Homo sapiens: one gene and its partner. The protein of the gene in region 1 interacts with the protein of each later gene in a biochemical or structural test. Each region holds a gene or a part of one and is shown in the gene's direction. Other genes may lie near its edges.

Region 1 (9,070 bases):
TTCTTACTTTATAGGCTAAAATCATCCAGATTCCCTCACTCCCCCAAGAATTATCTTGTTTTATGAGAAATAACACTGGTGACCACTTGGATTTGAGTTTTGGTTTCTAGTCTTTTTTCTTCTAACACAATGAACTTACATATTAGAATTAAAGTTAGATCAGTTATAAAATACTAATGAATGGATAGCAGATATTAGGTTTATAATGTCTTTCTAAAATGCAATAGATTAACCTAAGGTTAAAAGCTTTGATTTTTCCAGAGACTTATGGATGTGAATTTTCAAAAATTTTTTATATAAAGATTTTCTAGACTCTCTTCACCTTAGGTTATATACATTTTTTAATAAAAGGGGATTTCTGAGCTCAGCTACTCTTAAGTCCCCCAGTAGGTTTATGAAAAAGCTGAAGCCCTGGTTATAAATTAACATCTAGGACAATTCACATGTATAAGCTGGCAGAAGAAGACAATCTTGCTGGTATTTCTGTATTCATATTTCTTCAACTCAAATGACTTTCAAGAAGCCATAGGCATGGCTCCATGTTTTTTTAATATTTCCATAATATTCAGTTACTGGCGTGAGGTCTGATTATAGAAATTGACAGCATCCATAGTGAAGTGATTATATGGTTATCATTATTGAAAACATATACTTTATAAAGGGAACAGAATTTTCAGAACAAACATAAATGATATAGGATTACACATTATAATTTCAGATTTTGCTTTTGGAAAAAACTATCTGCTGTGATATTATAACTTTATAATAACTGACTTATGCTTCTGAAGCTTGATTTTTAATCATGAACTGCGTATCTCTTTTTGAACAAAAATTCATTACTTTTTTAAGACTCAAAGTATTAATTCCTTATATTTTAATATTTAACTTTACTACATGTTAATGTTTAGCATAGTTTCTTTAGTGCTTGCTTAAATGAAACATCCTGAAAGAGCAAGTTAAAATGTGTTAAATATCATCATTGGATAGATCCAAAGATGATGGCAAAGAGAATGGCAAAATCTAGATTGAATGTGATTTATTTAAATATTTAATAATATTTCCCCCATTGAGCTAGATAATTGATTATTAATATTGGAAGTATAAATTCTTTCTTCAGGAAGAAGTAATGCTTCATTATTTTTAAACAGTGGTTTTATTTTCCATATTTCATTATAAGATTGTTTTATTTGGTGAGAGGTGGCTAATAGTGGGTTGCTTTCTGAGGAGTAGAATTATGTTTTTGGAAAATGAATTGAACATGTTTTCACTAATTTTGCTGCGAAAGGACTAATATTATAATTTTGCCCATGTGTTAGTTTGGATTACTATGTTTCCTTTCTGCCTTCTGATTGGTGTTGTATGGCAAAGACAATGTCTCCGTACTATTATAGTAATTGATTCCAGACTACATTGTGTTCACAGAACAGCATCATAGAAATATGTGGGGTTTATTTTATTACCAAGCAGTTACACCATTCACCTTGCCATTCATATATAATACCTTGTTTCTTCTCAAAGGGAATTAGTTACTTCTCTTATTAAACGTAACATCTGTAAAAACTAAATTGCATTTCTTTCCTTCTATCTGGAAAGGAATTTTGTGTAAGGTCCCACTGAAGATTCATTTTTCCTGAGGTTTTGCCCTCCTGCTTTTCAGGGCCCCATAGTGTACTGGCCTACAGGCACTTCCTTGGATCATTTAGTAATTTTACTGCTTTCAGACTGATGGGGTCGCTTATTGGTGACAGTTCCCTGTCAAATAGCAGAGAAGACCACATATCAGGGTTGTCTCTGTCGTCTGAGCACTATTCAGCAAGGAAGCCAGTTTGTCTGGATATTGGCAACTTAGGGCTTAGAAATTCTGGGGCCTCTCGTGACCTTCATCTCTCCTTTCCAAATCAGCCATTCCCTAGTCAATTCATTATCATCGTTTCTTGTATTAGAAGTTAACCAAGAATAGTTAATACCAAAAGCACTAAGTGACTGGACTAGTGTACCTTCATTTCTGTAGTTAATTGTGAGATTATCTTGAAATCATATTGTTTTTGAATGGTACAGTTGTTTTTATATTACTTTTTTTTATATTGAAGCTAAACTTGCAGATATTTTCTGTTTTGTTTTGTGTTTTAACCAGTTACAATTTAGTTTTTATATTCTCTTACATTCTTTTCAATCTTATATCATATTATTTGTACCACACTTGATACATGACAATTATCAATTTACATAAAATGAAAGAAAATCAGTACACATAAAGTTACCTGCAATGCAATAGACTCTCCAGAAATTGTTCATGATTAGCTCTGGAGGCAAATGTTAAGATGAGCCTGTCAAGGGGGAGGCAGGATATTGGAGTAATGGAGCCTTATCCACAAATAAAGTTTGAATGCACTTTGGAGCAAGCTGCCTACCTGGAATGTGAGTCTTTAAATATGCTAAGTATATAGTAGAGAAATAGCCTACCACTGATAAGAATATCTCAGCCAAGGACACTATATTTTGTTCTTCTGATAAAATACAGATTCCCCGTCAAAAAAACAAATTTATTATTTCAAATGATTTTTGAAAACAGTACTTAAAAATAACTGTAGTTAATAAAATTCAAAGCATTGAACAAGTCCAATAAAAATGTTCTTTGAGTATGTAGCTACAAGAATTTTTTTTGAGTGGATAAATTTTCATTCATTACTTTTATGTATTTATTTATTTATCTTAAGCCTTTCTTCTAGTATTTTGTCTCAGTTACTTAGATAAGTATTGATATAATAATGAATTTAGTGATGCTGCTTCCCTTATTAAAATATCCACTTTAAGGTAAACTTTTCTTTCCAGTTAGATTTTGATCTTGGTGTGACATTTTTTTGACATTTGCTTACATTTTATATAAAATTGGCCTTTTTGAGCTTCTTTCCAAAATCTGATTTTTTCCTTTTTAAGTACTTTTTTATTTGATATAAAACAATTAAAAAGTCTAATGACATCAGAAAAAAGTCCTCCTAAGTCATAAATACATACTTTGATTAATGCAATTACCTGTAATAATTTTATATCTACTAAATATCATATTTCCTATCTATGTACCAGTAACTTTCTATATATCTTTCTTGTCTTGATTGCAACCTACTTCAAAGGAAATTATCTTAATACATTGCTCATTTTATCATATAGTAAGAAATAGGAGTGTTTTGAAAGGTTATTCAGGCCAACTAATAAAAGATGCTTAGAACATCACATTACGTGCTTGCCCACGCTCAAAGCTTTCTAATTGTGATTAGGGTTTCTAATTAGAGTAGGAGTATATCGGAGTTAAATTGAGAGCAGAATTTCACCTGACTTTTAGTCAGTTCTTCTATGTAATGACCTAAAACAGATTTCTTGAAGTTTCCACCAATCCTTCATTGAAGACTAGGAGTCATCCAAAACATTCAAGCTTCTTTTCCATGTGACATTTATCATCAATGAATAATCTCTCTTTTGTAGTGTAGCTCTCCAGTTCCTTCACTCATGCATTTCATTTTTTACTTCCCTTACCATCATAGCTGACTAGAGTAGATCTTACATCAATTAACATCCCAAGGTCTTTTCAGAAGTGCTGCTATTAATCCATATCTCCTTCCTTTTATGCTTGAACAGTTATTAATTTTGTTACTGTTACCATTAGATTCAAGAGGAGGACTTGAATTTTTTCCCTTTAAATGTAAAATTATTAGCTTCAATCTGCCTTTCTAACATCAGTAAGTTCTGGGATTTTGATTGTTTAATTTATCTTAGTATTCCAGCTTTGTGTCTCCAGGATTTAACCATATACGTTAAAACCTGAATAAGATAAGGGTCGAAAGTAAAGTCTCAAACCCTTTCACGAGCAAACTACCTGGCTAATTCTGGTGTTCACTCAGCCTATTATGAATTTCTTCTATACAGTGCTTTTCCTCCTCTTACTATACTACCTTGCAAATGTATAAATGGCTATATGTAGTTTAAATGAAAAGTCATCACAACAGATGACTTTAAGTAAAGATTTACTGCATAAAAACTTTAAATAACAATTTTGAAGACTTAATTTCGGTTACTAAGTAGTTTTTACTTTAAGGGGAGTGCAGTTTAAATACATGTAAAGTAAGTAAAAGCAATCACAGTATAGACATTTATAAACATGAGTTTATTCAATTGTAGGGAACTGAAAGAATGTATTAGTGGTGCAATTATCTAGAGAAAACCTGGAGAAAAGGGAATTTTGGTTAGAGTTTTGTTTGGAAACATAGCATTTGTAAAAGAGACAGTATTGAAAGTACTGTAATGGTGTGAAAAAAACAGATTTGCTTATCTGGAGGAAAGAGTCTGGGGTAAGAACTAATAATAAAAACAGAAGTAAGTCCTAATATTCTGTGATTACATCAGTCTTTATAGACATGAAGGACAAGTAATGGAGAATCTTGAAGCATGTGACAAAGAGTTTTGGTTTCAAGAAAGATACATCCAAGCACAGTTAGACATGTGAACTTTGGCCAAGAGAACATATATTATTGGCAAAAGTTGGTGAGTGGACGAAAGAAAAGCCAGATATTGTTACGAGATACTTTATTTGTAATTTTTTAACAAGTGTTCATATCCAAGTAAAACCTTGTTTATCCATAACCTTGATTCTCTAGCTGTCTACTTTATACTTGAGAGTTGGTCTCTTTAAACACCAACATTTACATTTAAAACATTTTATGAGGTGATCTTTGCAAACACTACTGTAAGGTCCCCTAACTTCTTTTAAAGACAGTGCTCAATTTAATGGACATTTTCCTTGAATATACCAAGTTATCGTGAACATAAATTTTTACCTTGCGCTGGAATATGGTGGTAATCTTGGAGCCTGTTAAAAAAATATAAGGCCATTTATTATTACTCAAAATGGCCACAAATTGCCATACTTAAAAATTTTTATCTTTATTTTTTCTTTTATATCTTGGCTGGATTTATTAAACTCATTTTTAAAGTCATTAATCAGTATTTAGCAAACAGCTATTATGTGCATAGAATTAGAGTGAAATCCAAAGACGAAAAAAATGACACTTTCATTATTTTGAGTAAACTTGAACTCTTTGTGATTCCTTTGCCACACAATCACCCTGTGACTACGTTTATCTTGCTGCAAATTTTATAAGAAGCTGTCCTTCATAGGGTAGGTGGTGATGGCAGCTTCCATTTTATGTTTCTACCGTGTGGCTTGGCAGTAGCCATCCTTCTACAAGTATTAAAATTTTTGCCCTTATGATATAGGGAGCTAATATACAATAACTGCTTTGTGGATTTTCAGTAACTGGGCAGTGACTGGAGTGATGGGTTCACAAAGAGACTTATCAAAAGTCGTGTTTTCGGCATACACTTTTTTAAGAACACAGAGGGCTGGGGAACCACATCCAGAAAAGAATAGTTTGGTGAACACCTACAACCACTAAAAAAACTCATGGCACATGCTGTTCTGATATATGTTGGAAACAGCATGTCAGTAGGAGAAAGTTGTCAATTTTCAGAGAAGCTGTAGTTGAAAACCAGAGTCAAGACAAGGCATAAAGCCTTGTCAAAATGTCACTGTCTTATGCAACAGAGAGTTATCATTAGATTCTAAAATTATATAGAAATATTTGCTACTTTTTCCTGTTTAATTGTTCTCTATGAATGTCTACAACATTTAAAATCTTAACTTACATGAGAAATTATAATTTTAATTACCTTCTGTATTCCAGAAAGCTTTACTCTCTTAAACTTAAGGCATTGTAGTACCAAATAGAACATTAATGTTTTTATGAAGAGAATTGCTTCTCAGAAATCTCCAATTATCAATTTTAGGATTATCTATTTTATTTATTTCATAGCCAACAAATTAAATATTCAAGGCAATTATCTAAATATCCAGGTAAAAGCCTTAATTTGTAGTAGAAGCACAGGATTTTGATAGGCAGAAATTCTTTGATTACCTAGTAACTAATTTGCCTTCTAATAAAGACATTTATAAATAAACACGTGACTATTATGCATCACATATTTTTCTTGGTGCTAGTAACACATAAAGTAATAAAAATCAATAATAATAACTATTATTACTACTAATATTTGTTGGAAGAGACATGTAAATATATAGACAGTTATAGGCTCATGGGTTAAAAAGAAAATGTTTAATTACTGTTTTGAAAAATGCACAAAACATATGGGAAATACTGTATGCATGCACATCTCAGTTTCATTTGTAAAATGGGAATTATAATCACTACCATGTTATATTCCTCACAGCAGCTTTTCAAAGAACAAGAAGATGGTACCCATAAATACATTTCAGTTGTTTTTCTTAAACTGCCACCAAAGCGATGACTTCTTCTCAGCTGATGAATATTAAGCAAGTCCAAGAAGCCAGTTAATTGGATACAGATTTTCGACCCTAAACCTAGTAATATAAGATTAAAATGAAATTCATGATTAAGATAAAGGTGTAGCATCTACTATAGACTTTAGGAAACTTTCTTGTTACAAATGAGAAAACAAAAGCCCAGAAAAATAAAACAAAATGACTTGCTCAAGATCATAAAATTCATCAGCAGCAAAGCTAGGACTAATTTAGCTTTGTTTTAGATACTTTCTCAAGCCAAAGTTTTCTTTCTTTCTTTCTTTCCTTTTTAACCCTCATGCACGCCTCTCATGTGAGGTCCATACTATTTAGCTCAACTGTGTCTTTCCAACTTTGCTGCTGTCATTTAGCAGCTTCTAGGAGATTCCTCTTCTGAAAACTCACTCTGCTGTTAGTCTTCCTCTTAATGTCAGCTCTTACCTTAGTTTTGGATGACTCCAACATTCATGTGTTTGTCCCACCAATACCTATCCTCATAGCTCATTGATCTCAGCTCTGTGTTCCTTGCCTTCTCTTTAGCAACCCACTTACCCTGACCACAATCTGGTACCCTGGCCTTGCCAATAACTATTTTATTTATAAATTTTTAAACATGAGAAAGTCACTGAAAAATAGAAGCCTCTCCTTTTCTTCAACTTCTTTTGCTCCCACCTCACCTGCTCTCCACATTTCTCTGGAAGGTCTGAATAAAGCCATTTTCTCAGCTGATCTGGTTTCCCTTCTGCATCTGAGCAACTCTACCTCCATATTTGTGCTTGTTATCATCTTGTAATAAAAGTCCTTTCGCAGAGAAAATAAACTTTCAATGTAGAGTGACTGCTCCACATGAAGCTCTATTTCAGGAGATTATGAATTAACCATTTTTTTTTCTCCAGCTCCTTCAGGGCAGAAATGTAAAATAAGACCAGAATTAAACACCTTGTTAAAATGAAAGAAGAAAGGATGCCTTCTCTATGAGGGTTGTGGTTAACAGTGGGAGATGACACATGGTCAGACATCTCTGTGACACCATCTCTACCACAAGTAACTAGAAGTGGTATGGAGTGGATAAGGATGAGAAAATTAGAGAAGGGTGGCTAGAGTTGAAATCCAGAGATCTGGAATAGGATTGACTCAAGGGATTAATAGAATTAGGCATGCTTAGAGAGCTATCAGGGTGAAGTATACAGAAAACAGTCCCCTAAGTTTATTATACAGATAAGATGCAACAGTGCTCCATATAGGGCTAGGTAGATGTAATAGATGTAAGATGTCATTATTGTTGTCATGCTATTCTAACCTTAATTAGGAAGATGCCCTTAGCTTAGATGAGCCTGTGTGAAGTAAATACAGGGAAGTTCTGTGGTGGAGATGTGAAAATAAAGAGGGAAAATGCTGATTTACTAACACTGAGTGGCGCATATTCAACTTCTCATTCTCTCCCTTTATAAAAATTGCACTCACAGCATGTGGCCCTCAATGCAAATCTTTTGATTGGACAGCATATTCCACAGCTATTGTTAAACAATCAGAGACAGTTTCCTCTGTTCTCTGTGGTGCTATAACACATTTTATAATTTGTTTGTTATAAAAGGTAGAACAAAAAAATCAATAAACAAATTGCTGATAGTATGTTCAAGAGAAAAAAACTTTATGAAAGATTTTAAAAGGTTATATCAGGATATTGAAATAGTGGAAACAGCTTATAATAAAGAAATTCAATATCCTTTTTTTTCGATAAATAAATACATTATTTGTTATTTTCAGGTTTTGGTTAACAGGTACTACTCTACTGGCAGAGAAGAAGTCATGTCCAGATTCCTATCTCAATTTTTATGTTTTGTAGCACATTCTTTGGTTTGACCAATGCTATAGTCATTGAGGAGTAGAGATAGTGGAATTATAGTCTTCCTTTTAAGAAGTTCACCACATGGTGATTACTATTCAGTTTTGCTAAGTGCAACCATAGGAGTAGGCATGAGGTAGAGAGACAACAGAGAGAACTGTGATTAGCTCCCTCTGGTCCAGGGAAGCAGTGAGGGAAAGCTCATAGAAGGTCCCCAGAAAAGGTGACATCTGAAGTTCACTATATCCGAGGAAACAAAGGAGTAAATTCAGTAAAAGCACTGACATAGAAAGCAAAATATGCTCAGGGACCTCTAAGAATATCATTAACTCTAAAGTATATGTCCTGGGAAAATGAGTGGGGAAGACCAAACTGAAAAGAGAGAAAGAGCCTAGGTCATGATGGGACATACTTATCAAGCCAAGAAAATTAGACTCTTGGAAACATGGTGAGCCAGTGAAGAATTTTATGCAGGAAGAAATCAAGATCAGATTATATTTTGGAAAGGGCATCTGGAAAGCTTTGGAGAAGACAGATTAAGAAAAGGAGTCAAATTGGAAATTAGGAGACAAATCTGAAGGCCATTGATGGTTGAGGGAAGTGGAGAAGGAAAGGCCAGTTCAATTAATTAATTTTGTCAAGAGATGATTAGAGTTTTACTAAAGAAAGTGTCAATGGAAAAGGATAGAGGAGAATGAATTTGACTTTCTATGTAGCAGGGAGGTTAGTGTTTAGTGAATGATTGGTTATGAGAATCAAGGAAAAAGAGAAGTCTAGAATAAGCCGCAGGTCTATTTTGTAGGAATAAATAGGGAATAAAGAGAAATCGCAGACTGGGAAAAAATTAGTTTAGG
Region 2 (9,070 bases), about 15 Mb from region 1:
GTCAGTGTGTCATCAGGCTTATTCTTCTCTGTGGATTCAAGATGACAACAGCATTTAACAGAGTTATGTATACAATGTTCAGAGACAGCAGAAGGGGCCTCCTCTTCCTCTGGCTCTTTTTAGAGGGAGAGATCCTTTTCCAGAAGCCCACCAGTGGACTTCGTGCATATTTTCTTGCCAAGGGGTGGGAGACTACCATGATTGCCCTAGACCAATAGAAGCTACCCTTGAGGCCAATCTGGAGCTAGCCTCTATTGAAACACATGTGGAAGGGGGGAAAGTGGAACAAAATTTAGGTTCTATTAAAAAGGAGAAAGAGTGGAAGAAATATATCTGAATGTCACCTGATCCCATCTAGACTTGAACTAGGGAAGATTGTAGTTCATATGTTTTGTATGTGTGGGTTTAATTTAAACCGGATATTAGTTTACATCTTTATAGTAATAGCTCTGTCTAATAGGTCCCTTATCCTTTTAAAAATAAATAAACAAGTGATATAGTGGGTTATAAAGGTAACTAGGGTGAGCAGCATTGGATTACTTGTTCATCCTCCCCATATAGATAATATGAACTAACAAATAGTCCCTTTGGAATGTATTTATACTTACTTGAATATGAAGTATGGTATTTTCTAGACCATCTGACACTTAAGAAACATAAACCTGTGAGGGTAAGGACTTACTTGCACTCTGCTCTAAGTCTGCCTGTTTTTGTTATTCCTTCTTCCTCTCCAGATATTTCTTCTTCCTTGTTCCCCTTCCCACCCCACTTCCTCCTTCCCCTCTGCCCCACCTCTCCTGCCTCTTCCCCTTCTCCTTTTAAATGATGAATATATTTGAGAAGCATCACCTCTTTATTTCCCAAGTAGAGTTAGGTGGCTGCTGAATCATTTCTACATTTGTTTTTTTTCCCTCACGTTTGATGGCATCAAATAGTGCATTATTAAAAGACCTTCTCTTTCAATAGCTATAGGCCCTTCGGGGAGGTGAACATACAAGCACGTGATTGTGGGTATCAGCAGGATGCTCTACATATCCTCTACCCACAAGCAGATGAAAACTAGTTTTATCCGATGTAGAAAATGGCCAGAACTGTCTACACATTGCCAATATGTTTTAAGTTCAATGGTTATTTGTTGCAAAGTTTTGTTGTTTTCTCAAAGCTCAAATGAAAGCCTCCCTCCATCCTCTTGCTACCATTTTTGAAGCTTAGAAATACATACCTTCCCATTTTGTGAATCTTGGATCCTTACAAAATGGGTTGAGCTCTCTTGGTAGAAATTAAAGACTCTCATATTGCTTGTGATCTCAGCAAAGAATGGGAGCTACTCAGCTGGCAGCAGCACCTACCCTGTTCCCTGCTCAGGGGTTTTGTTAACAGTAAGGTCCCAGTTTCCTCAATGTTTTAAGGAAACATCTGAACCCAAGAATTAGCATGAACCCCTTGCTTGAAGTTGTTTGTGTGTTTGTGAGGTTGTGTATCTGCTTTGCTTTGCTTGCTGTAGTATTCTGATTAAGGGCCAATGTTTTAAGTAGCATGATGTTATATGGTTGGCAGTTCAGCCTAGTGATAGAGATAGCACATTAGAATTTACCTCCTTTTTTAAACGTTGGAAAAAAAAGAATGGGTTTATGTAACACAGCTCCTTACCTAACCAGTACTGATCCTCTATTGATGATGGTTTTCTGCTTCATTGCATGTTAAATGATGCATGCTTTTTCTCATGAAGCTGTCACAATGACGAACACTTTTATCAACCCAGATGGAGCATGCCAACATGGTAATTGTGTCAAAACCACATGCTTGTCTAATGGGCGGGCTGTTCACAGCAGTGTTCTTTTTAGTTGATGATAAGTAGAAAGATCATTACTTAATGTATTATATAACTATACTAATGATGGATTTTGGGTAATTATAATTAAATATTAGTCAATGAGCATTGCCAGAGTTTGGGAAACCTTAGTTCCAGTTTTGGCTTGCCCATCTGACTTTACCATCTCAGGCAAATCTCCTGGTCTTTCTGATCCTCAGTTTGGTTGTTGATAAAATAAAGTGAGGATATTAGACTAGATGATTGAACAATACTCATTTAGTAAGTACTTAATAGATACCTATTATGTGCCAGTCTAGATGCTGGGAACATAGCAGTATATAAAAGAGAGATCCCAGCCCTCATGGAGTTTTCATTTTAGTGGGAATGTCAGCATTCCACTACAAGAGTTCTCATTTTCATGGGTGATAGAGTTTAAAGGCTTATCCACATATGAAAGAAACTCAGGGTTATAGGCATGATAATTAGGGTGAGTGGATGTACTGTAATCATGTTTTCTTGATGGTGGTAATTTGTTCAAGAAGCCATTTTATCAACAAAGAAGGTAGTGTTTTGTTTTGAGCTCTGTTGAACTCTTGAAACTGTTTCAAGAATATGTTGAGTAATGATCCAATTAGTCTTTTCCATTGTTTTCTGTCTTGTAACTTCCATTTGGATGGGTGACACTGATCATCACTTTTGAGGCTCTTAACCCTTATGGGTGTTGTGAATACAGTGGTGATTGAGGATGACTTCGTGAGGCTTAACCATATGGTTTTGTCGGTGCTCTTCCTGTCTGTATTTGTACTTTGTCTTCAGTGTCTGTCAACCAGCTCAGTTATGATTACATGGTCAAGCAATAACGTACAAATGGGATTTTCTTTGTTATTTAAATTCATCTATAAATTTCTTACTTTTAAGAGAGAATATTTTGAATAAATCTGAGAATACATTTATGTTATTTCATAGTCATTTTCACTAACTGGCAGGAACCTTCTTTGAGTACTAGGCCAAGGACTCTGTGGTTGAGTAGGTCATTCGTGCATAATGGAGCTGTGATTGCATTATGAAGTGTGTGTGAGGGAAGGTATACACAGCTGTGTGGTTCTCCATTAGTGGCTTTGGATAAGTGACTACTGTTTATTATTTGTAAAACAGGGATAATACATACTTTGTAGAATATTTTGAGAAACAGATTATGGGCACTGTGTCAGACAGTAAACAGTGAGTGGAAACCCTTATGATTAAAATATAAACAACTATTAATGCTTTTAACATAATAGTGGAAACTCAAGTTTTATATTTCACTGCTTCTAAAATATTTTGGCCAAAAATCAGCCTTAGTTGATTGGTTCCCAGACTATTTCTCACAGCCAAAGTAATTAGAGAGCTGCCAATTTATCTTGGTTAGCTTAGACAAGTATGGGGCATTTTGGTTTTAATTTTACCAGGACATTTATTCAGCTCTCAGAATGTAATTAGAGAGCATATACTAGAAATACACTTTGGTTATTTCATGATTAAAGTAAATAATATTGTCCACTTAAATAGTACATGGGAAATGGTATGTTAAAGAAGGAAAAAAGGTTTTCTGTGCAATATGGAGCCAGTTTACCTGTCCTCGGGTCTTGCTGGAAGACATACTTTTGAATTTCAGATGCCTGAGAATGAGAAGCAGCAAAGAATATGTGGGTATAATAGTTAACTATTCCCTCTTACGTAGCATTGCTGTCAGGGATATTACTGTCTCCTGATCTCCCTGCCTCACTACATATTTCTTCTGGCCCTCATGCCTTTTCTTCTGCCTCACCTTATATGTTGATGGTGATAAGAGCTCTTTTAAGGATCCTCTCAGTTTAAGCTACCCTTTTTCTCTAGGTGATGTATCCCCATGTGATGACAACATCCAAACCCTATCTCTAGTGTGTATCTAGTCTCCAATCAAAACCTGTGTGTCTTGGGGTCATCTAGACATCTCCACAACCTCTCAATCACAATGAATTCAAAATTGAATTATATGTGTCAGCCAGACCCACTTTTACAGGTGTTCCCCATTTCCATGAATGGTTCTACCATCACCCTAGTCTTCCTTGACCTGGGCCTTTTCCTTAGCTCTTTCCTCTCTTTGACTTTCTATATTCAGCCCGGACATCAAGTCATATCCACTCTACCTCTTTACCATTAGATTAATTTCTTGTTCTTTACCCTACTGTTTCTGCTGTAGTATATATAGACCATCGTCTTCTCAGGTCTGGATCAACCAGAGATCAGATCAACCCAATCTCCTGGATGTCTTTCTGCTTCAGTCTTTTCTTTCATCCTGTGCTTTACAGCCAGGTTGCGCTAAGTGAAATGAGAATCTTATTACATTTCTCCTCTACTTCAAGTACTTATGTAACTTCTCATTGCTTTTCAAATAACCCCCACATTGCCTTTAAAATAACACAAAATCTTTTATGTTTTGGCTTCTGCCTTCCTTTCTTACTTCATTATTACCAGTTCAGCTTCCGCCTGTCCTGTCTTCACTCATAAGCCCCCACTTCACTTGTACAGTGGATTATTGTTCTGTGCCTGTGGTTTCCTTTTTTATGAGGAATGTTCTCATGTTTCCACACAACTCCCTATGCCTGACACATACCTTCCATTCTGGCTATTTTGTCTGAATAATGAGTACCCATTTAAAAAATAAACTCAAATGTCAACTTCTGCAGAAACGCCTGCCTGGTGACCCTCTTCTTCTCCTAACCTGGCTTAAGTCCTTTGCTTTTTTTTTTTTTTTTTTTTGTTGTTGTTGTTGTTTTGAGACAGGGTCTTGTTTTGTCGCCTAGACTGGAGTGCAGTGACACAATCTCGGCTCACTGCAACCTCTGCCTCCTGAGTTCAAGCTATTCTCTTGCCTCAGCCTTCCGAGTAGCTGGGATTACAGAGACGTGCCACCACGCTCAGCTAAGTTTTGTATTTTTAGTAGAGATGGGGTTTCGCCATGTTGGCCAGGATGGTCTCGAACTCCTGACCTCAAGTGGTCCACCCTCCTCGACCTCCCAAAGTGCTGGGATTACAGGCATGAGCCACTGCACCTGGCCTAGTCCTGTGTTTTTTGTGCAACATGCTATTGACTTAATGTATGCTTATTTGTAGCCCTCACTCCCTTAGCTCCTCAAAGGTTGTCTTTATTCATGTGCCCATGAACTTACCACATCGTAGAAGCCATTATATAGGTGAATTGACTTGACTGTTTTTGTGGTTGCATATTAGATGTGAAAAACATTTTTAAGTTATTTTTATTGAGAAAATTTACATATCACAAAATTCACCCTTTTAAAGTATACAATCCAGTGGTTTTGGATATATTCGTAAGGTTGCCAGGGGGCGACGGGGAATGCAGAGTGACTACTAATGGGCACAGGATTTCTTTTTGGAGTGATGAAAATGCTCTAGAATTAGTGGTGGTGGTTGTACCACTTTGTGAGTATACTCAAAATCACTAACTGTATACTTTAAGAGGGTGAAATTTATGGTACATGAATTATATCTTAATAAAGCTTTAAAACAAGTGTACTTTTTTTTTTGACTTATTCAAGTTTGTACCACTTAAAAAGTTAACACAATTTTTTTTTTTTTTAAGAGATGGGGTCTCACTCTGTTTCTCAGGCTGGCCTCAGACTCCTGGGCTCAAGCATGTTTCTTGTCTCAGACTCCCAAGTAGCTGTGACTACAGGAATAACCATGTCCGTCTCTTAAGTTTTTACCACCTTTGAAGATAGCTGGGACACTACTCGTTGTCCAGGGTGCCAGGACTCTGGGCACTTATTATTGGCAAGGGAGGGGAGAGCGAATGTGATCGGCTATCTCCGCAGGCCCCGCCTGTTGTTCTTTATGTCAGCGTGCTGTAACACTTTAAAAGTCCCTCTTTGCTTATGTAAAATTTAGTTATTTTCAGAATTTATTTAAATTTTGTTCTAATTAGTTATGATAAGAACAATCGTCAGATGCATTTTTTCCACCTCATAATGTCCTCATTTGGTTTGGATTATGGCCCTTAAATATTTTTCTTATATATAGAAAGAAAAGTGTGATTATGGTTGGGTGGGATGGAGGTTCGGAGTTTTGATTAGAATTTGAGTACCTTTTCCAAGATTAACTTTTGCATTGGAACAGTGATGGTGAATTACGGGATTTAATATTGGAACACAGAATAATACATTTTTGTTATTTTACCTTCTTGGCTGTTACACACCATACACTTAAAACTGTTTTTTCTAATACCTAACATTTTGATAGATTTTGGGTTTAATGTATGAAATTGTAGTGAAATGTGTCTCATTGCTTTCTAGCACTGTTGATAACATCTTCCTGTTACAGAATAAAGAATACCAAGTACAGATAAAAGTAATTTTTCTTAAAAAACTTGGATTTTAGATATCAATTATTGTTTATAACAAGTTGAAACCAAATAAAAGTAATCCCTGTTTCTTGAGTTCTTGATGATTTTAAGTTCTAGCTATATGGAACTCAGAACACACAGAGTTCTATTGTGATGCTAGTTTTGGGTCTGTGATGCTGATAGAGAATTCTAAAAGTTCGAGCAACAGTCTCCATTTTGTCTTGTGCTTTTGAATCTTCTTTCTTGATGTGCTTTCTCCCTGTCATCTGTTACTCTTCTTCTCATCTTTCCTTACCATGCCCCTCGCAACCAAACTAAATTTGAGAGAACTTACAAAATGACATTTTATGATTTTTGTTTTGATTACAGCATAAGCTGTGGCCATGACTACTGAAGTAGGCTCTGTGTCTGAAGTGAAGAAGGACTCTAGCCAGTTAGGAACAGATGCAACCAAGGAAAAACCTAAAGAAGTAGCAGAAAATCAGCAGAATCAGTCTTCCGATCCAGAGGAGGAAAAAGGTTCCCAGCCACCTCCTGCAGCTGAAAGCCAAAGTAGTCTACGCCGCCAGAAGAGAGAGAAGGAAACATCGGAGAGCAGGGGTATTTCTCGGTTCATACCGCCATGGCTTAAGAAGCAAAAGTCATATACCTTAGTAGTGGCCAAAGATGGAGGAGATAAAAAAGAGCCTACCCAAGCTGTTGTTGAAGAACAGGTCTTAGATAAAGAGGAACCCCTTCCAGAAGAACAGAGACAGGCTAAGGGTGATGCTGAAGAAATGGCTCAGAAGAAACAAGAGATTAAAGTTGAAGTCAAGGAAGAAAAACCCTCAGTGAGCAAGGAAGAAAAACCCTCAGTGAGCAAAGTGGAGATGCAGGTATGTTTGGGAATAATTGCCTGGAAATGAAAACCTGATAGCGTAACCACATAATAAAAAGGGTTTGTTTGTTTTGGATCATTTCCAGATTTCTTGTACTGAGATACTGCTTTAGCTTAATGTATACGGAATGGGTCTTAGATTGGTCTACCATAGCCTTTCCCTGTTACTCCTTGAAAAAAAAGTCCCCTATATATACCAATTACTAAAAAATTCATGTCTGTAACCTGTTTAGGTGAGGTAGATACTCCGAGCCCTGCCATCTCTTTTTTAAACAGAATGCTCTTTTATGCCTCTTTAAGTTTTCACTGGACAGTAAGTAGTAGATTTGTGTGTGCGCATTTTAGTTGCCTAACAAAGCCTAGGTTTTGCCATGGTATAAGATTTTAATTGGAAATGTTATTATTTGAGATGATACTTAAATTGTAGTTGCTGGGATGTAGTTTCTTTGATTCATTTAATGCCAAATAACCAACTTGGCAAAATGAGAATTTTGGCCATGAAAAGAGGATGAGGGGAAATATCCTTTCTATTGGAATTTTCAAGTCTTTAAAAATCTGAAAGTTACAGTGTTTAAAGTAACGATCCTAATTCTTATGAAAGATTTTCCTTTTAGTATGTTGTCATCTGCAAGGTGGTTGACTATAGTATGAATTTATTTTTTTTTCCTCAACAGCCTACTGAATTAGTAAGTAAGGAGAGAGAAGAGAAGGTAAAAGAAACACAGGAAGACAAATTAGAAGGAGGAGCAGCAAAAAGGGAGACCAAGGAAGTGCAGACCAATGAGCTGAAAGCAGAGAAGGCATCTCAAAAAGTCACCAAGAAGACCAAAACTGTCCAGTGTAAAGTGACCCTCTTAGATGGCACCGAATACAGCTGTGACCTGGAGGTGAGATAGGGAGCTGAGTGAGAGCTAGCTTGATATGTGGATTGTGGCATGGCATGATGAATAGATTTTTGTGTTTTATTAAGTTCCTGTAAGCCAGTTGATTACAGTTTTGCACTAAAAAAAATACATTGAAGTGGGTCATCATTTCTGTCACAAATATTTCATGACCTTGGGATAAGCAGGGATGCTATTCTGCCAGTCTGCACTAGCCGTGTTTACTGGTTCGTGTGTTAATGACTGGGTGTTAAATATTTGGAATATTGCTTTTGGCTAGAAGATGTTTTTCTTGAGGAAAAATGATAGCACTAGGCTGACATTTCAGAATAAAGAAGTTTCAGCAGTAAACTTAGCCCCAAGTGTTTTATCCTGAGACAGATACTGGCTTAACATCTAATTTATTTACTTTCATTTAATTAAAAAACATCTATGATTTGCAAAACATACAGTTCATTAGCGCTGGTGCTGACAGAAGTCACTTTAATCTTTTAACGCATCTAGTACCTTATAATTTTATGTCAATCAGAAGAGTTTGTTGCTTTCCACAAATTATTTACGTAACGTATACTAATAGCTAATGTTTGCTGAAGAACTGTGTGAAGTGCTTTGAATGGATTATCTTGTTTAATGGATTATCTTGTTTTATTGATTAAGAATCAATAAAGGTAGATATTATCATTGCTATTTTCAGTGTTACATGTTACAACGGGGAACTTAGGGCTTAGAGAAGTTAAATTCCTTGCCCAAAGTTTTAGGGCTGGGTGCGGTGGCTCAAGCCTGTAATCCCAGCACTTTGGGAGGCCAAGGCGGGCGGATCACGAGGTCAGGAGATCCAGACCATCCTGGCTAACATGGTGAAACCCTGTCTCTACTAAAAATACAAAAAAATTAGCCAGGCGTAGTGGCGGGCGCCAGTATTCCCAGCTACTGGGGAGGCTGAGGCAGGAGAATGGCGTGAACCCGGGAGGCGGAGCTTGTGGTGAGCTGAGATTGCGCCACTGCACTCCAGCCTGGGCGACAGAGCGAGACTCCGTCTCAAAAAAAAAAAAAAAAAAAAAAAAAAAAAAGAAAGAAAAGGACTAGCAAAAGAGGATTAAAAATCCTTGTCTTAGTTG

What was found. Proteins that work in one complex are often made in the same cells at the same time.
Region 2: the proteins of GRM1 (region 1) and EPB41L2 form a complex in vitro, tested with the Homo sapiens proteins (one study listed by BioGRID).

The regions. Positions count from the first base shown.
Region 1 is NC_000006.12:146,030,843-146,039,912, forward strand, and holds part of GRM1 (metabotropic glutamate receptor 1 isoform alpha precursor), read left to right. Parts: intron 1-9,070. UniProt on the Homo sapiens protein: G-protein coupled receptor for glutamate. Ligand binding causes a conformation change that triggers signaling via guanine nucleotide-binding proteins (G proteins) and modulates the activity of down-stream effectors.
Region 2 is NC_000006.12:130,953,993-130,963,062, reverse strand, and holds part of EPB41L2 (band 4.1-like protein 2), read left to right. Parts: intron 1-6,563; 5' UTR 6,564-6,577; coding exon 6,578-7,069; intron 7,070-7,745; coding exon 7,746-7,958; intron 7,959-9,070. UniProt on the Homo sapiens protein: Required for dynein-dynactin complex and NUMA1 recruitment at the mitotic cell cortex during anaphase.